3 separate regions of the Homo sapiens genome follow, and regions 1 and 3 are each linked to region 2. Evidence: fine-mapped expression QTL. A gene starts in region 2. Each other region holds a variant in brackets. All regions are shown on one strand. Distances are between the middles of the regions.

What was found. PIP is the estimated chance that this variant, and not a neighbour inherited with it, causes the effect.
Region 1: its variant is fine-mapped to the expression of LINC02440 in amygdala (GTEx, PIP 0.96).
Region 3: its variant is fine-mapped to the expression of LINC02440 in hippocampus (GTEx, PIP 0.98).

What each region holds. Positions count from the first base shown.
Region 1 is chr12:118,083,888-118,090,035 of GRCh38, reverse strand. All of the region lies in intron 2 of VSIG10 (V-set and immunoglobulin domain containing 10), which reads left to right. Among named protein-coding and RNA genes, the nearest start is that of VSIG10, 17 kb to the left of the region's middle. RefSeq lists an enhancer at 4,127-4,669. The variant C/T (reference allele first, on the strand shown) is at 3,399.
Region 2 is chr12:118,771,158-118,777,305 of GRCh38, reverse strand. LINC02440 (long intergenic non-protein coding RNA 2440) reads left to right here and starts at 2,701. Exons shown (of 3, transcript NR_183608.1): 1 at 2,701-2,820; 2 at 3,531-3,695; 3 at 4,004-4,275.
Region 3 is chr12:118,794,501-118,800,648 of GRCh38, reverse strand. No RefSeq gene overlaps it. Among named protein-coding and RNA genes, the nearest start is that of LINC02440, 23 kb to the right of the region's middle. The variant G/A (reference allele first, on the strand shown) is at 3,299.

The DNA of each region.
Region 1 (6,148 bases), 690 kb after region 2:
GCTAGGAGTTGTGATTTTATTCTGTGTGCAGGAGAAACTCCGGGAGCTTCCAGCAGGGGTGTGGCACCATTTCATTTGCACATGGAAAATGTATGTGTTTGGTATCAAGAAGAGCTGATGAAATAAAACAGGGAAGGGAGAATTGAAGGTATACAGAGTCGGTGACCAGACAGGGTGGCGACAGTGGCCTTGGTGAAAATGCACAGGTTTGGAAAATATTTTGGAAGGAGACCAGCAGGACTCGCTGCTGGATCAGAAGTAGAGGATAAAGGAAAGAGAGGCTTCCAGGACACTTCTTGGTTTTGGGTGATGTCTAAGGTTTCTGCCAATTCTCAAAGATTAGGGCATCGTCCATTACAGCAGTGTTTCTGTGTCTGGAGAGGCCATAGATAAATTCCTGGGTGATGCCAGGAATGAAGGGGGTGCATTAAAAAATGTCACCCATCTTGGCCCCACTGTTTGGTTCCCACTGTGAGCCTACGGGCAAGTGCTGGCTGGTCTCCCTCAGTCCACCTGCCCAAAATAATTAGTCATCGCTTCCTGTCCATCTCATCAATGAATAACCTTATCTTTTATCCACAGTGGGGTAAGGCGACATTGCAACTTTTTGTTTCTTTATCATCACTCTCTTTAGTTTATGATGACTTGATCAGACACTGATTTGTTAATCATTGGCTAAGTTTATTGGAGGATGGATTAGTTTCATTATTGCCCTGTAGGGAGATAAAGGCAAGGTCTTGTTGCAATGAACGTGAACTTGCAACTTTAAAAATGTCACTGAACTCATGGCTGGGTGCAGTGGCTCATGCCTGTAATCCCAGCACTTTGGGAGGCTGAGGCGGGTGGATCACTTGAGGTCAGGAGTTTGAGACCAGCCTGGCCAACATGGTGAAACTCCATCTCTACTAAAAATACAAAACTTAATCAGGTGTGATGATGCACACCTGTGATCCCAGATGCGTGGGAGGCTGACACACAAGAAAAGCTTCAACCGGGGAGGGCGGAGGTTGCAGTGAGCCGAGATGGCACCACTGCACCCCAGCCTGGGTGACAGAACAAGAGTCTGTCTCATAAAAAAAAAAAAAAAAGAAAAAGGAATAAAAATGTCACTGAATTCCAGTGGCACTTTGTACTCCCTCCAGGGAAGTCCTGTGCATGTCTTAGTTACTGTGCTGTGATTCATAGTATGGAAATTTCTTCACGTGGAAATACATGGGGTCCTTGACTGATGTAGGGCTTGTTTGTGAAAACCAGACACAGATACCCTTTGATTCAAATACACCAGAGCCGTCTGGGGTTGGTCTCCTGGTTCTCATCTTAGGAGGTCCCTGGGCTAAACAGCAGACTCCTCTCTGCCTTGGAAGCCTGTGTTGCTCCCCGACAGTGGCCAGCGGGGAGGGCGTGACATCTCTGATTGGAGTTGGCCCTCATTTTTGCGTAGATTTAGGAAAATAGATTAGGTTTGATTCAGCCTCTTTCTGGGATGGCAGTGGTATTTCGGAGTGGTCCAGATGACTGGGTTCAAATCCACGTTCTATTAGCTGTTGTTGTCTGTGTGACCTTGGGAAAGTCCCTTGAACTCCAGTGTTAGTTTTATTGTCTGTGAAATTGAGGGTAACGGTGGAAGGAGTTACGGATTTGTGTTATGCATTAATGAGATAAACTCATGTAGCCCTCAGCACACTTGAACTGGATCCAGTGGTTAAGCCAGCGATGGGATTCCCGTGGGATAGTCCATCTCAAGTTCTCAACAATCAACCAGTTTATATCTGGGTCCTTTTTTTTTTTTTTTTTTCTGAGACACAGTCTCGCCCTGTCACCCAGGCTGGAGTGCAATGGCTCGGCTCACTGCAGCCTCCGCCTCCCGGGTTCAGGTGATTCTCCTGCCTTAGGTTCCCGAGTAGCTGGGATTACAGGCGTGCGCCACCACGCCTGGCTAATTTTTTGTATCTTTAGTAGAGACGGGGTTTCACCATGTTGGCCAGGCTGGTCTTGAACTCCTAACCTCGTGATCCACCCGCCTCGGCCTCCCAAAGTCCTGGGATTACAGGCATGAGCCACCGCGCCCAGCCTCATCTGGGTCTTTCGAACAGGTCTTGCTGTGGGTTAGGGACTCTTTGTGCCCAGATCTTTTCACTGATGTAGTTGCTAGCTGAGTCACATTACCTCCTTCTCTCTCTTTTTTTTTTTTTTTTTTTGAGACAGGATCTCACTCTGTCACCCAGGCTGGAGTGCAGTGGTGTGATTTCGGCTCACTACAGCCTTGAATTCCTAGGCTCAAGTGATTCTTTTATCTCACCGTCCTGAGTAGCTGAGACTAATAGTGTGTGCCACCACACTCGGCTAATTTTTTAGTTTTTTTGTAGAGACAAGGTCTCACTATATTGCCCAGGCTGGTTTTGAACTCCTGGGCTCAAGCAGTCTTCCCTCCTTGGCCTCCCAAAGTGCTGGGCTTACAGATATGAACCACCTCGCCCAGCCCCCTCCTTCTCTTAAGGAGAACAATTTGGAAACATTCTAACATGGCCTTGGAATCTAGGGGGAACAAATTCCAAGATATGACAGTTTGTTATCTGCAAGTGGCTGGGGATGTGTGAATGGACAGAGATGCTGTAGAAACATGGAAATGGAAGTAGGGAGGTTGCTAGATTTCTCCCTCCTTACCCCTTGGTCCTCTGCTTGTCCATCGGTGGGCATTTGGTGTCTCTGTCTTGTAGGAGGTCAGGTTTTCTGTAGGCCCGGGGCAATTCAACCTGCCTGGAATGGGCACCCGTGGTGTGATTTCATCACTCATCCCACAACAAGAGTATGCACTGCTCCCTGTTAATTGAAAGGTGAAGTTGAAGGGTCTTGCCATTAGGATTGAGACTCTGCTTCTAAATGTACAGAAATCCCTTGGTCCAGAGCAGTTAAGGGCTGCCAACGCCGTTTCTTTCTTTCTTTCTTTTTTTTTTTTTTCAATTTTTAAATTTAGGCTGGGAGTGGTGGCTCACGCCTGTAATCCCAGCGCTTTGGGAGACCAAGGTGGGCAGATCACCTGAGGTCGGAAGTTTGAAACCGCCTTGGCCAACATAGTGAAACCCCATTTCTATTAAAAATACAAAAAAATTAGCTGGGCGTGGTGACACACGCCTGTCATCTCAGCTACTCAGGAGGCTGATGTGGGAGAATCATTTGAACCCAGGAAGCGGAGTTTGCAGTGAGCTGAGTTTTCACCACTGCACTCCAGCCTGGGTGACAGAGTGAGACTCCATCTCAAAAAAATACATAAGTAAATAAATAAATTGATTAAACAAATATTTTTGCAGAGACAGGGCCTCATTATGTTGCTCAGGCTGGTCTTGAACTACTGGGTTCAAGCGATCCTCCCGTGTCAGCCTCCCACAATGCTGAGATTA[C/T]AGGCAGGATCCATCTTACCCGGCCACACAGCTGTTTATTTCATCAATTGACCCATCCCTGCTACCTCCAAATTGGAGTGGGTATGATATTGGAACAGCCATGTGTTTACCTGCAGACAGGCTGGTCAGATAGGGAAGGTGTCACAGCCTTTCCCATATCCTGGTACACTTTTTTTTTTTGAGACGCAGTTTTACTTGGTCACCCACACTGGCATGATCTCGGCTCATGGCAGCCTCTGCCTCCTGGGTTCAAGCTATTCTCCTGCCCCAGCCTCCCAAGTAGCTGGGATTACAGGCACCCACTACCACGCCTGAATAATTTTTGTGTTTTTAGTAGGGACAGGGTTTTGTTTTGCCATATTGCCCAGGGTGGTCTTGAACTCCTGACCTCAAGTGATCCGCCTGCCTCCGCCTCCCAAAGTGCTGGGATTACAGAGGTGAGCCACCGTGCCCAGCTGACTTTGTGCTTTTTTTTTTTTGAGACAAAGTTTCGCTCTTGTTGCCCAGGCTGGAGTGCAGTGGTGCAATCTGAGCTCACTGCAACCTCTGCCTCCCGGGTTCAAGCGATTCTCCTGCCTCGCCTCCCAAGTAGGTGGTATTACACGCATTTGCCATCACGCCTGGCTAATTCTTTGTATTTTTAGAAAAGACAGGGTTTCACCATGTTGGCCAGGCTGGGTCTTGAACTCCTGACCTCAGGTGATCCACACGCCTTGGGCTCCCAAAGTGCTGGGATTACAGGCGTGAGCCATCATGCCTGGGCCCAACTTTTTTTTTTTTTTTTTGAGACGAAGTCTCGCTCTGTTGCCCAGGAGTGGTGTGATCTCGGCTCACTGCAACCTCTGCCTCCTGAGTTCAAATGATTCTCCTGCCTCAGCCTCCCAAGTAGCTGGGACTACAGGCGTGCATCACCACACCTGGCTAATTTTTGTATTTTTAGTAGAGGCAGGGTTTCACCATGTTGGCCAGGCTGTTCTTGAACTCCTGACCTCAGGTGATCCACCCGCCTCGGCCTCCCAAAATGCTGGGATTACAGGCATGAGCCATCATGCCCAGCCAACTTTGTGTTTTTCTTTTTCTTAAAGATATTGTCTCTTATATATGCATTTGAGGAGCTTAGCTATCGAGAGATAAATCAGCCCATGAAAGACCCCAGTCAGATTTCATGGCACACAGTGCCAGGCTCTCCCTGTGTCTGTTTTTCTCAGGCCAAACAAGTGTTTGGGGAACAATGGAACCAGCTCGCACGTGAGCAATGAGGAAGCTGGTCTGTGTCTACCTCCAAGAGGCTTAGGATTCAGTTGGGTTTGGGGGATGGGGACCTCCTCTCTAGCCAGTGATGTGGCCTTCAGTCCAAACTTCCAAGAAAGGGAATCTCAGAAAGATCCATGTTTCCTGGCTGATGGACCTGTCTGATATGGACCCACCAACAGCTCTTTGTCTGTGTTGGTGGTGGTGTCGCTATGTCTTCTCACAGTGTAGGCCCCTAGGGAAAGGGAATGCTGGGTACACCGAAGAAAACTTGTTTGTGCCTGGTCAGAAGGTGGGGTGATTCTTGCCCAAGGATTGATTAATTTAGGTCTTGCCAAGCTTATCTGTTTTTGTTTGTTTGTTTGTTCGAGACGGAGTCTCACTCTGTTGCCCAGGCTGGAGTGCAGTGGCGCGATCTCGGCTCACTGCAAGCTCCGCCTCCCGGGTTCACACCATTCTCCTGCCTCAGCCTCCAGAGTAGCTGGGACTACAGGCGCCCGCCACCATGCCTTGCTAATTTTTTGTATTTTTAGTAGAGACGGGGTTTCACCGTGTTAGCCAGGATGGTCTCGATCTCCTGACCTTGTTTAGGTGATTCTCTTGCTTCAGCCTCCTGAGTAGCTGGGATTACAGGCATGCTCTACCACGCCCAGCTGATTTTTGTATTTTTAGTAGAGATGGGGTTTCACCATGTTGGCCAGGTGGGTCTCAAACTCCTGACCTCAAGCGATCCACCCACCTCGGCCTCCCAAAGCGCTGGGATTACAGGATGAGCCACCGTGCCTGGCCTGCCAAGCTTATCTGTAGCAGAGATTGGTGCTTATAGGAGCCTGCAGATCTCTGGGATGGGCTCTTTGCGTGGCAGTCACTAGGGAGATCAAGAGAAAGTCGGTTGTTGATTTTGCCTATAAAGGTGATATCACAGTCTGTAAGTCTTCCCACAGACCTTATCCCATTGAAGAAGTACACATTAACTGATTAGCACAGACTGTGTGGTGCATTCTGAAGTCATTTTCGAATAAAATTCCTGGTCTAAAGAGTAAATAGCTGAAGATAAGGTAACTTTTCCTGTTAGCAAGGAATTCAAGATACTGAGATGTAAATGAACCTTTTGCAGCTCTTGACTGGCCAACCTATATTTGTGGTGGGTAAGGAAAGAAGTGAATTCTGATGTCAAAGAGGACAGCAAAGAACAGGAAGGCAGCAGCTGTAGATTGTTCTAGAACAGGATTTGGCAAAGCTTTTCCTTTTCTTTTTTTTCTTGAGATAGGGAGGGTCTCATTGTGTCACCCAGGCTGGAGTGTACTGGCACAATCACAGCTCACTGCAACCTCCACCTCCTGGGCTGAAGTGATCCTCCCACCTCAGCCTCCTGAATAGCTGGGACTACTTACCTGCACCACCACGCCTGGCAAATTCTTTGGTGTTTTTTGAGATGGGGTTTTGCCATGTTGCCCAGGCTGGTCTCGAACTCCTGGGCTCATGTGATCTTTTGCCTC
Region 2 (6,148 bases):
ATAGAGATGATAATCTCATCATCCTCCCGGTTTGTTTTTGGATTAAGCAATATGATATATGTATCATGCCTGGCACAAAGCCAGAAACTGAATAAATCCTAGCTGATAATCTTTTTTCAATGATATTTTTAGTAATAATATTGTTATTGCAATTCCAAAATATATTTGTATTGTAAAATAAAGCAATGAGTACCTAATTTCATGTCATTAAAAATCAAGGTTTTCAGTTGAAAAGAGATATATGATCAAAGGAAAAACACTGTATCCTGATTTTGAATGAGAAATATCAGTATAAACTCATGATGTGTTTTCTCCTAAAAAGTATGCATTTTCTAACTGTCCTCTTAAAAGACCTAGAGCCAATAACAAACCCAGGAGCAGTGAGCACTCCCACCACCCAGATGATGGTCTCAAATACCATTTTCCCACTCAAAGAGGTCTGAGCTCCTTGGAGAAATGGCTGACTCTGGCTTTGAGTAGCAAATGTATAAGATAAGTCTGAAAAGATTATCATACCAAAGTATGAGAAAGCTGTTGATATATTAGGGTTATTTCTAGAGAACTCAAGGACCAACTTTAATAGTCTTCCACTAGCCAAAGATGAGATCATTTGAGCATCAAATGTCCCTGTATTTAAGTTCCTCCAGTAAACCCTAGGTCTCATTCACTGTCTCCAGGGCACAGTGCCATTTCAGTTGGAGTTGACAGGTGTTTGGTACAACACCTTCCTTGGTGCTGCTGTCTGAGTTAAGTCACCTCCTCTGATACCATTACATCTCTCTCATAGCACATCTTAAAATACATAGTATCTGGCAGGTTATGTGCCTGGTGCCTCACCCCCTTTGAGTCCCTGAAGAACAGAGGCCATGTCTTTTTCACCATTGTATCTTTATCATCTTGTATAGTTTCTTGCACATTGTAGGCTCACGGGGCTTACTAAATGGGTGAGTGAGAGAATGGAGGAATAACATCCTCCTCGTCGTTTTCATTTCATCATGGTACACACTTTAGCTCAGGTATCCTCTGAACTCTTCCTTTCTTCACTCCCTTGTCAATAACAACTTTCTTGCATGCTGCCCCATTGGCCTCGGGCCATGATCTTGGCAAAGAAGATGAAGAAGGACAATACGGTTTTGTCATCCAGATACTACCATTTAACCTATGTAGTTACTTGGTCTTCTGTGGCACCTAACACTTTACAAACTCCTTCGATAAGTATGAGCTCCTTACAACAGCCCTGGAAGGCAGGCAAGGTTACTCTTGGTATCCCCAGGATAGAAGTGAGTGAGTTTACATAGATAACTCATGATGTCTGTCCCATCCACAGCACCTGTTTTGGCAGCCCCTGCTGAAGAACTGGCCACAAGTCAATTGGCCACTCATGTTGTATGCTAGGGGCCTGACCCTTGGCCAGAATTCATTGGATCAGAACTGTACACTTGATCTAAGTGAGCCAATCAGGCTGTCTCTTGAAAATGTAAACTGGAAAAGAAAGACTTCCTTGAAGGTCATTTTGGCATTTTTGGCACTGAGCAGTGTGCAGACAGAAGCAGAGAGGAGCCACCAGGAGGTCTCAGAAAGAGATAGAAAGAATAGTCTCCATGACTTCTGAGCTCTCTGTAGTACCCAGTGGAGTTTCTTGTGAAAACCAGCTCTGATTCCTGCCCTTGGATCTCAGGAATCTCTTTAGTGTCTTTCTGATAAAGCTCTCATTTCACTAGAGTTAATTTGTGTAGGCTTCTGTTCCTTGTAAACAAATAAGACATGGCCCAGACAGGGATATAAGCAGAAGGAAGAACATCAGGCTAGAGATCAGAAGACCTTAGTGGCTTTGCACTGAGTAACTGTGTGACACCAGGTAAAATATTTCATCTCTCAGAACCTCAGTTTCCACTCTTGTAAAGTGAGAATGCTGACAATACCTAGCATACAGGAGCAATTGAGCAACACGCTTAACAGCATTTTGTTGCTATATAATTACTAAGTGAGTTAACTTATCCACGATCACTATAATGGCGGGAAATTCAAGCATCATAGTTGGCAAGCCATAAGAGCTGCTAGGGAGAGATTGAGCATTGTTCAACCAGAAGTCACTTTGTACAACAGCCTCCTGGGAGTGGAGCTGCCTGTGGACACTGCCCTGAGTCAGGAGGAAGGGTACGATGACTTTGAGCACACCCTACCCGGAAGTCACCAGCTTCCAGGAGACAATGGCCTGAAGAGAAAGCCCCAGTCACCCCAGGGGAGGCAGGGAAGCATCTACCTCTGGCTCTATCTCTAGCATCATTCTTTCTCTCTGGGTCTCTGAGTTCTTAGGTCAGGGATGGTGTCTCTCTTGCTAATAGCCCTGTCTCCAGAAGCACACAGGCTTGGCACACAGTAAGTGAATGAATGTCTCCGTGTCCCTGTCTGTCTCTATGAGCCTCTGTTAGCTGTTTTTTAATGTGGCCCTCTTGCTCTCGCTCTCTCTCTCTCCTCTCTCTCTCTTTCTCTCTCTCCCTCTCTCTCTCTCTCTGCCTCTCCCTGCTCTTTGTCTCTCTCTTATCTCTCCCCTCTGTCTCCCTCTGTCCTCGGTGTCTCTCTCACATCCTCCTCTGTCTCCGCCCCACCTCACGGCACACGTACTCACACCTGCCCCAGACCTTTCCCTCTCCTGAGCTCCCTTTGTCTTGGTCCCTCTCCCGTTGCCTGGTAACAGCCCTCCCCTTCACCAGCTCCGCGGAAACCATAGCAACGGGCAGCCGGAAGATGCGGCCATTCCTCTCCCTTTTGTCCATTGCATTTCAGCAGCGCCCGCGCACATGGACGCTCCAATTACAGGTACTTGGGAGGGGACGCCTTTGTCCGCGGCCCATTCACGGCGGAGCCGGCTCCGGGCGGAGAAGCTGTCGGGCGCTGTCGCACAAAGCGATTTTGTGCCTCCTCCCGGCGCCTTCCTCCACTCCCTGCCGCGTTCAAGGACAAACAAGGACCTCCAAATTCGTGTTCAAACGCCCCGCGTGGTAGGCAGTGTGGGGGGGTCAGAGGAGAGTCTGGAAGGAACCCAAAGGGTGAGCAGACCTAGCCAGTGAAGAACGCACAGACATACTGACCCAGCAGCCCCCAGAAGAGAAGCCAGGGACCAGAAGCGCAGGGCACGGGAATGTGTCATGATTGGCGCACAGGCTGTGGCCCCACCGCTGCCTGCCTTACTCCCCTCTGCGCGCTGACCTTCCACTCCTCCTGCACCGAGGTCCTTCTCAAACCAGAGGCTTCACACCTGTTCTTCCCTCTGGCTCAGATTTCCCATCCCTCTTTGCACACTTAACTGCTACCCGACCCTCAGTCTCAGCTCCAGCGTGCCTTCCTGGAAGAAGCTTCCCTGCCCACCCCTCCATTCCCTTTCCCAGGTTCCCACAGCCCCCTAAGCTGTGCTTTCCACGTCTACAATCATATATATTTCTTAAATGCCGTATAAGTTTCCAGCGGCTCCTGTAACAGATGACCACAAACTGGATGGCTTAAAACAACACGTATGCATTGTCTCCCAGCTCTAGAGGCTAGAAATTGGCAGTCAGGATGTGTGTAAGGCCACGCTCCCTCTGAAGACTCCAGGGGAGGATCTTTCCTTGCCTCCTCCAGCTTCTGGTGGCTGCCAGCATCCTTGGCATTCCTTGGCCTGTGGACACATCACTCTCATCTCTGCCCATGGTCACGTGAGTTTCTCTCCGTGTCTCTCTGTCCTAATTTCCCTCATTTTATAAGGATACCGGTCATTGGATTTGAGTTCACCCTAACCCAGAATGACCTGTCTTAACTTGATTATATCTGTAATGTTATTTCCAAATGATACAGACAGGAGACAGGGTGACACTGGGTAGAAGAGGGTGGTTCTCCAGCAAAGGCCCCACCCTCAAGCCTGGATACCTGAGGCCCTAAATGAGAATGGGAATTCCTGTTTTCAAGCCCCCAAAGTTGCCTTTTGGCCCACCACGCCCCCTATCTTGCCCCCATATAAGCCCAGAACCCCAAGCTCCAGAATACAGACCAGCAGGCGAGGAGACAAGGAGGCAAGCAGATGGATGGTGGAACAAAGTGGCAGAGAAAGAGAGAAGAGGAGAGATGTCTGGACGCCAAGAGGAGTCTGGCTGGGGCCAGTCAGAGAAGAGTCCAGCGGCTGGGCAGCCCGACTCCAGGGGAAGATCACCTTCCCACTCCATCCCCCTTCACGCTCCCCATCCATCTCACTAAGAGCCATCTCTACCACTCAATAAAACCTTGCATTCATCCTTCAAACCCTTGTGTGATGTGATTCTTCTGAGACACTGGGCAAGAGCTCAGGATACAGAAAGCTGTCACATTGGCCCTCTGCCCTTCTGATAAGGCCGAGGGTCCATTGAGCTGATTAACACTCAAGCCATCTGCAGATGGCAAAGCTGAAAGAGCTTTGTAACACTGGGGTTGCAAGCACCCACCCGTAGACACTACTGTGGGGCCAAGAGCCCAAAGCACTTGCCCAGCCTCTCCACCTGCCCATCTGCATGCTCCCCCTAGGTGTTTGAGCTGCGGGGTGACTGAATAGGCAAGACGCACCTCTGTTGCACATCCTGCCAGGGGAATCAGGGAACTCTCCCATTTCACAGAAAAGGTCACATTCCAAGGTCCAAGGTAGAAATAAGTTTGGGGAGAGGAAGCACTATTCAACCCAGTATGGGTTATTCATATAACCCAGTAATGGTTATTCATTCTCCCTCCTCTAAACTTACAAGCCCTGAGACCTCTGCAAACCTTTACCCATGACTCTGTCCCCCAGTGTCTGGTCAGCTAAGAGGCCAGTCAATATTCAGTGAACGAATGAGCAAGAAAGAGTTGCTTCTCCTCCATGAGCCTTAGTAGTCCTTATCCATAAAATGGGCATAATAGCATTACTTCAAAACATCATTGAGGAGGAATCCACACCTGACAGGTAGAGAATTTGAAAAAATCAATAACCATGTGTATCAGTTTCTTGCCACTGCTGTACAAATTACCACAAATTTCATGGTTCAAACCACTCCAATGTACTCTCTCACAGTTCTGGAGAAATCCAAAATCAACATGTCAACAGGACCACGCTCCCTCCAAAGGCTCTAGGGGAGGATCCTTTCTGGCCCCTTTCAGCTTCTGGTGGCTCCAGGCATTTGTTGGCTTTTGGCTGAATCACTCCAATCTCTGCCTCCATCTTCACATGGCCTGTCTCCTGTCCTGTGTCCTCTCCTTTTCTTATCAGGACACTTGACATTGAATATAGTGCCTACTCAGATAATTCCGGATGGTCTCATCTTGAAATCTTTACACCTGCAAAGACCCCTTTTCCAAATAAAATTACATTCACTGGTTCAGATGATTTGACATGGGGACATCTTTTGGGGGAGGGGGGAAGCCACCATTCAATCCACTACCATGATTATTATTTCCATAATTAAGGTACGAGCTGTGGTTGCTGACAATTTATATTCAATCAATATTTATGAGGACCAAGTAGTTGCAGTTCTGAAATGTCCTGATTTTTACTGAATTTTCACAATGACCCTACTGTTTGCATGTTAAAAGTTGAGACAAATGAGGCAGGAGAGGTAAGGTGATGTCCCCCTACATCACAAACAGGGCAGAGTCCTCCAATGTACCCTGCCCCAATCCCAGCCCAGTGTGTGCACAAACCATTCCTCTGCCCAAAGCCCTTTCTTTTTCTCACCTTCACTAGTTAGGTCTGCCCATCCTTCTGGTTCCTTTCAGACTCTCCTCTGACCCTGCAGGGCTATGTTAGGGTTCCTCTGGTTTCCATGGCATTCTTTACTTTTTCTCTCTGTGTCTATTTGTATCTGCTTCCTCTGAACTGTGAACTCCTTGAGGCTAAAGACTGAGTTTTGTTCAACATTACACCATCACAGCTTAGCATGGAACCAACCATAGAGAAGGAGCTCTATAAATATTTATAGAAGTGAAATTGTATGTGTGATGGTATTGACATGGACTTATTCAACTGAAACATATCAATACCAGTTACATTATTATTATGACTTGTTGTCTGAGACCCAGGTCCCACAAAAATCCTGAGTTAGAGAAAGCTAGTGGATACTTACTCCTAGGATTCAAGGGATTGCCAAGTTTGAAAGACTGAGCAACTGGA
Region 3 (6,148 bases), 23 kb before region 2:
CAACTCAAATACTCATCAACTGATGGATAAATAAACAAAATATAGTATTATATATCCATACAATGGAAAATTATTTGATTGTAAAAAGAAATACAGTTCTGATACATGCTATAACATGGGTAAACCTTGAAAAGATTGTGCTAAGTGAAAGAAGTCAGACACAAAAAAACACATATTATATGATTCCATTTAAAACTACCAGAATAGTCAAATCTATAGAGACAAAAAGTAGATTTGCAGTTGCTTATTGATGGGGAGGGGGAGGTTTGGGAAGGTGATAACTAAAGAGTATGAAATTTCTCTCTAAAACTACTAGAAGAAAACAGGGTGAAAGTTCCATGACATTGGTCTGGGGAATAATTTTTTGTATATGAACGCAAAAGCACAGGCAACAAAAGCAAAAACTAGAAGAACGGGAGTGTATCAAACTAAAAAGCTTCTGCACAACCAAGGAAACAATCAACAGAATGAAGAGTTAACCTGTGGAATGAGAGAATATATTTGCAAATTATACATCTGATAAGAGGGTAATATCCAAAATATATAAGGAACTCAAACAACACAATAGTAACAAAACAAATAACCCAATTAGAAATTCAAAGGATCTGAAGAGACATTTCTCAAAAGAAGACATACAAATGGCCAAAGAGTGATGAAAAATGCTCAAAATTACTAATTATCAGCAAAATGCAAATTAAGACTAGAATCAGGTATTACTTCACAACTGTTAGAATGGCTATATGAAAAAGACGGAAGATAAGTGTAGAAGAGAATTTGGAGAAATGGGAACCCTGGAATGTAAATTAGCACAGCCATTATGGAAAACAGTATGGAGGTTCCTCAAAAAAATTAAAAATAGAACTACCATATGATCCAGTAGTCCTATTAAAGGGTCTATTTCCAAGGGAAATGAAATCAGTATATCAAAGAGATATCTGCATTTTCATGTTCATTGCAGCATTATTCACATGGCCAAGGAATAGAACCAATTTAAGTGCCCACTGATGGATGAATGGATAAAGAAAACGTGGTACAGACCTGGCAAGATGGTCGAATAGGAACAGCTCTGGTCTGCAGCTCCCAGTGAGACAAAGGCAGAAGGTGGGAGATTTCCGCATTTCTGACTGAGGTACCCAGCTCATGTCATTGGGACTGGTTAGACAGCGGGTGCAGCCCACAGAGGGTGAGCAGAAGCAGGGTGGGGCATTTCCTCACCTGGGAAGTGCAAGGAGCTGGGGACCTCTCTCCCCCAGCCAAGGGAAGCCGTGAGGGACTGTGCTATCCGGCCCTGATACTGCACTTTTCCTATGGTTTTTGCAATCTGCAGACCAGGAGATTCCCTCGTGTGCCTACACCACCAGGGCCCTGGATTTCAAGCACAAAACTGGGCAGCTGTTTGGGCAGGCACCGAGCTAGCTGTGGGAGTTTGTTGTTGTTGTTGTTGTTGTTGTTGTTTTTTCATATCCCAGTGGTGCCTGGAACCCCAGCGAGACAGAATCATTCACTCCCCTGGAAAGGGGGCTGAAGACAGGGAGTCAAGTGGTCTTGCTCAGTGGGTCCCATTCCCACGGACACCAGCAAGCTAAGAACCACTTGCTTGAAATTCTCACTGCCAGCACAGAGGTCTGAATTTGACCTGGGATGATCAAGCTTGGTGGGGGGAGGGGCATCTGCCATTACTGAGACTTGAGTAGGTGGTTATCCCCTGACAGTGCTAAGGAGGCCAGGAAGTTTGGACTGGGTGGAATTCACCACAGCACAGTAAAGCAGCTGTGGCCAGACTGCCTCTCTAGATTCCTCCTCACTTGGCAGGGCATCTCTGAAAGAAAAGCAGCAGCCCCAGTCAGGGGCTTATAGATAAAACTCCCAGCTCCCTGGGACAGAGCACCTGGGGGAAGAGGCGGCTGTGGGCACAGCTTCAATGGACTTGAACTTTCCTGCCTTCCAGCTCTGAAGAGTGCTGGAGATAAGCAGGATTCTCCCAGCACAGCGCTCAAGCTCTGCTAAGGGACAGACTGCCTCCTCAAGTGGGTCCCTAACCCCTGTGCCTCCTGACTGGGAGACACCTTCCAGCAGGGGTCAACAGATGCCTCATACAGGAGAGCTCCAGCTGGCATCAGGCTGATGCCCCTGTGAGACAAAGCTTCCAGAGAAGGAGCAGGCAGCAATCTTTGCTGTTCTGCAGCCTCTGCTGGTGATACCCAGGCAAACAGCATCTGGAGTGGACCTCTAGCAAACTGCAGCAGACCTGCAGGAGAGGGACCTGACTGTTAGAATAAAAACTAACAAACAGAAAGCAACAGCAACAACATCAACAAAAAAGACCTCCACACAAAAACTCCATCCAAAGGTCATCAGCCTCAAAGATCAAAGGTAGATAAATCCATGATGAGGGAAAATCAGCGCAAAAATACTGAAAATTCCAAAAACCAGAATGCCTCTACTCCTCCAAATGATTGCAACTCCTCTCCAGCAAGGGCACAAAACTGGACAGAGAAGGAGTTTGACGAATTGACAGAAGTAGGCTTCAGAAGGTAGGTAATAACAAACTCCTCTGAGCTAAAGGAGCATGTTCTAACACAATGCAAGGAAGCTGAGAACCCTGATAAAAGGTTACAGGAACTGCTAACTAGAATAACCAGTTTAGAGTAGAGAATAAATGACCTGATGGAGCTAAAAACACAGCACGAGAACTTCATGAGGCATACACAAGTATCCATAGCTGAATCAATCAAGCAGAAGAAAGGATATCAGAGACTGAAGATCAACTTACTGAAATAAGGTATGAAGAAAAGATTAGAGAAAAAAGATGAAAAGGAATGAACAAAGCCTCCAAGAAATACGGGACTATGTGAAAAGATCAAACCTCCGATTGATTGGTGTACCTGAAAGTGACAGTGAGAAGGGGACCAAATTGGAAAACACACTTCAGGGTATTATCCAGGAGAACTTCCTTAACCTAGCAAGACAGCCCAATATTCAAATTCAGGAAATACAGAGAACACCACTAAGATAATCCTCAAGAAGGGCAACCCCAAGATACATAATCGTCACATTCTCCAATGTTGAAATGAAGGAAAAAATGTTAAGGGCAGCCAGAAAGAAAGGTCAGGTTACCTACAAATGGAAGCCCATCAGACTAAGAGCAGATCTCTCTGCAGAAACCATACATGCCAGAAAAGAGTGGGGGCCAATAGTCAACATTCTTAAAGAAAAGAATCTTCAACCCAGAATTTTATATCCAGCCAAACTAAGCTTCATAAGTGAAGGAGAAATAAAATCCTTTACAGACAAGCAA[G/A]TGCTGAGGGATTTTGTTACCACCAGGCCTGCCTTACAAGAGCTCCTGAAGGAAGCACTAAACATGGAAAGGAAAAACCAGCACCAGCCACTGCAAAAACACACCAAACTATAAAGACCAATGACATTGTGAAGAAACTGCATCAACTAATGTGCAAAATAACCAGCTAGCATCATGATGACAGGATCAAATTCACACATAACAATATTAATCTTAAATGTAAATGGGCTAAATGCCCCAATTAAAAGACACAGACTGGCAAATTGGATAAAGAGTCAAGGCCCTTCAGTGTGCTGTATTCAAGAGACCCATCTCATGTGTGAAGACACACATACACTGAAAATAAAGGGATGGAAGAATATTTACCAAGCAAATGGAAAGCAAAAAAAAGCAGGGGTTGCAATCTTAGTCTCTGATAAAACAGAATTTAAACCAACAAAGATAAAAAAAGACAAAGAAGGGCATTACACAATGGTAAAGGGATCAATGCAACAAGAAGAGCTAACTATCCTAAATATATATGCACCCAATACAGGAGCATCCAGATTCATAAAACAAGTTCTTAGAGACCTACAAACAGACTTAGACTCCCACAGAATAATAGTGGGAGATTTTAACACCCCACTGTCACTATTAGACAGATCAATGAGACAGAAAATTAACAAGAATATTCAGGACTTGAACTCAGCTCTGGACCAAGTGGACCTGATAGACATCTACAGAACTCTCCACCCCAAATCAACAGAACATACATTCTTCTCAGCACCACATAGCACTTATTCTAAAACTGACCACATAATTGGAAGTAGAACACTCCTCAGCAAATGGAAAAGAATGGAAAACATAACAGTCTCTCAGACCACAGTGCAATCAAATTAGAACTCAGGATTAAGAAACTCACTCAAACTGCACAACTACATGAAAACTAAACAACCTTCTCCTGAATGACTACTGGGTAAATAATGAAATTAAAGCAGAAATAACGAAGTTCTTTGAAACCAATGAGAAAAAAGAGACAATGTACCAGAATCTCTGGGACACAGCTAACGCAGTGTTAAGAGGGAAATTTATGCACTAAATGCCTGCATCAGAAAGTGGGAAAGATCTGAAATTGACAACCAAACATCACAATTAAAGGAACTAGAGAAGCAAGAGCAAACAAATTCAAAACCTAGCAGAATACAAGAAATAAGTAAGATCAGAGCAGAACAGAAGGAGATAGAGATACAAAAAACCCTTCAAAAAAATCAATGAATTTAGGAGCTGGTTTTTTGAAAAGATTAACAAAATAGATAGACTACTAGCCAGACTAATAAAGAAAAAAGAGAAGAATCAAATAAACACAATAAAAAATGATAAAGGGGACATCACCACTGATCCCACAGAAATACAAACTACCACCAGAGAATACTATAAACACCTCTACAGAAATAAACTAGAAAATCTAGAAGAAATGGATAAATACCCGGACACATACACCCTCCCAAGACTAAACCAGGAAGAAGTCAAATCCCTGAATAGACCAATAAAAAGTTCTGAAATTAAGACCAATAACAAGTTCTGAAATTAAATAATTAATAGCCTACCAACCAAAAAAAGCCCAGGACCAGACAGATTCATAGCCAAATTCTACCAGAGGTACAAAGAGGAGATGGTACCACTCCTTCTGAAACTATTCGAAATGATAGCAAAAGAGGGACCCCTCCCTAACTCATTTTTTGAGGCCAGCATCATCCTGATACCAAAACCTGGCAGAGACACAACAACAACAAAAAATTTCAGGCCAATATCCCTGGTGAACATCAGTGCAAAAATCCTCAATAAAATAATGGCAAACTGAATCCAGCAGCACATCAAAAAGCTTATCCACCACAATCAAGTTGGCTTCATCCCTAGGATGCAAGGTTGGTTCAACATAAGCAAATCAATAAATGTAATTCATCACATAAAGAAAACCAAAGACAAAAACCACATGATTATCTCAATAGATGCAGAAAAGGCCTTTGATAATATTCAACACACTTTCATGCTAAAAACAGTCAGAAAACTAGGTGTATTGATGGAACATATCTCAAAATAACAAGAGCTATTTATGACAAACCCATAGCTAGTATCATACTGAATGGGCAAAAGCTGGAAGCACTCCCTTTGAAAACCAGCACAAGAAAAGGATGCCCTCTCTCCCCACTCCTATTCCACATAGTATTGGAAGTTCTGGCCAGGGCAATCAGGCAAGATAAAGAAATAAAGCATATTCAAATAGGAAGAGAGGAAGTCAAATTGTCTCTGATTGCAGATGACATGACTGTATATTTAGAAAGCCCTATTGTCACAGCCCCAAAACTCCTTAAGCAGATAAGCAACTTCAGCAAAGTCTCAGGATACAAAATCAAGCTGCAAAAATCACAAGCATTTCTATACACCAATAATAGACAAGCAGAGAGCCAAATCATGAGTGAACTCCCACTCACAATTGCTACAAAGAGAATAAAATACCTAGGAATACAACTTACAAGGGATGTGAAGGACCTCTTCAAGGACAACTACAAACTGCTCCTCAAGAAAATAACAGAGGACACAAACAACTGGAAAAAAATTCCATTCTCATGGATAGGAAGAATCAACATCATGAAAACGGCCATACTGCCCAAAACAATTCATAGATTCAATGTTATTTCCATCAAGCTACCACTGACTTTCTTCACAGAATTAGAAATAACTACTTTAAATTTCATATGGAACCAAAAAAAGAGCCCATACATCCAAGGCAATCCTAAGCAAAAAGAACAAACCTGGAAGCATCATGCTACCTGACTTCAAAATATAATGCAAGTCTACAGTAACCAAAAT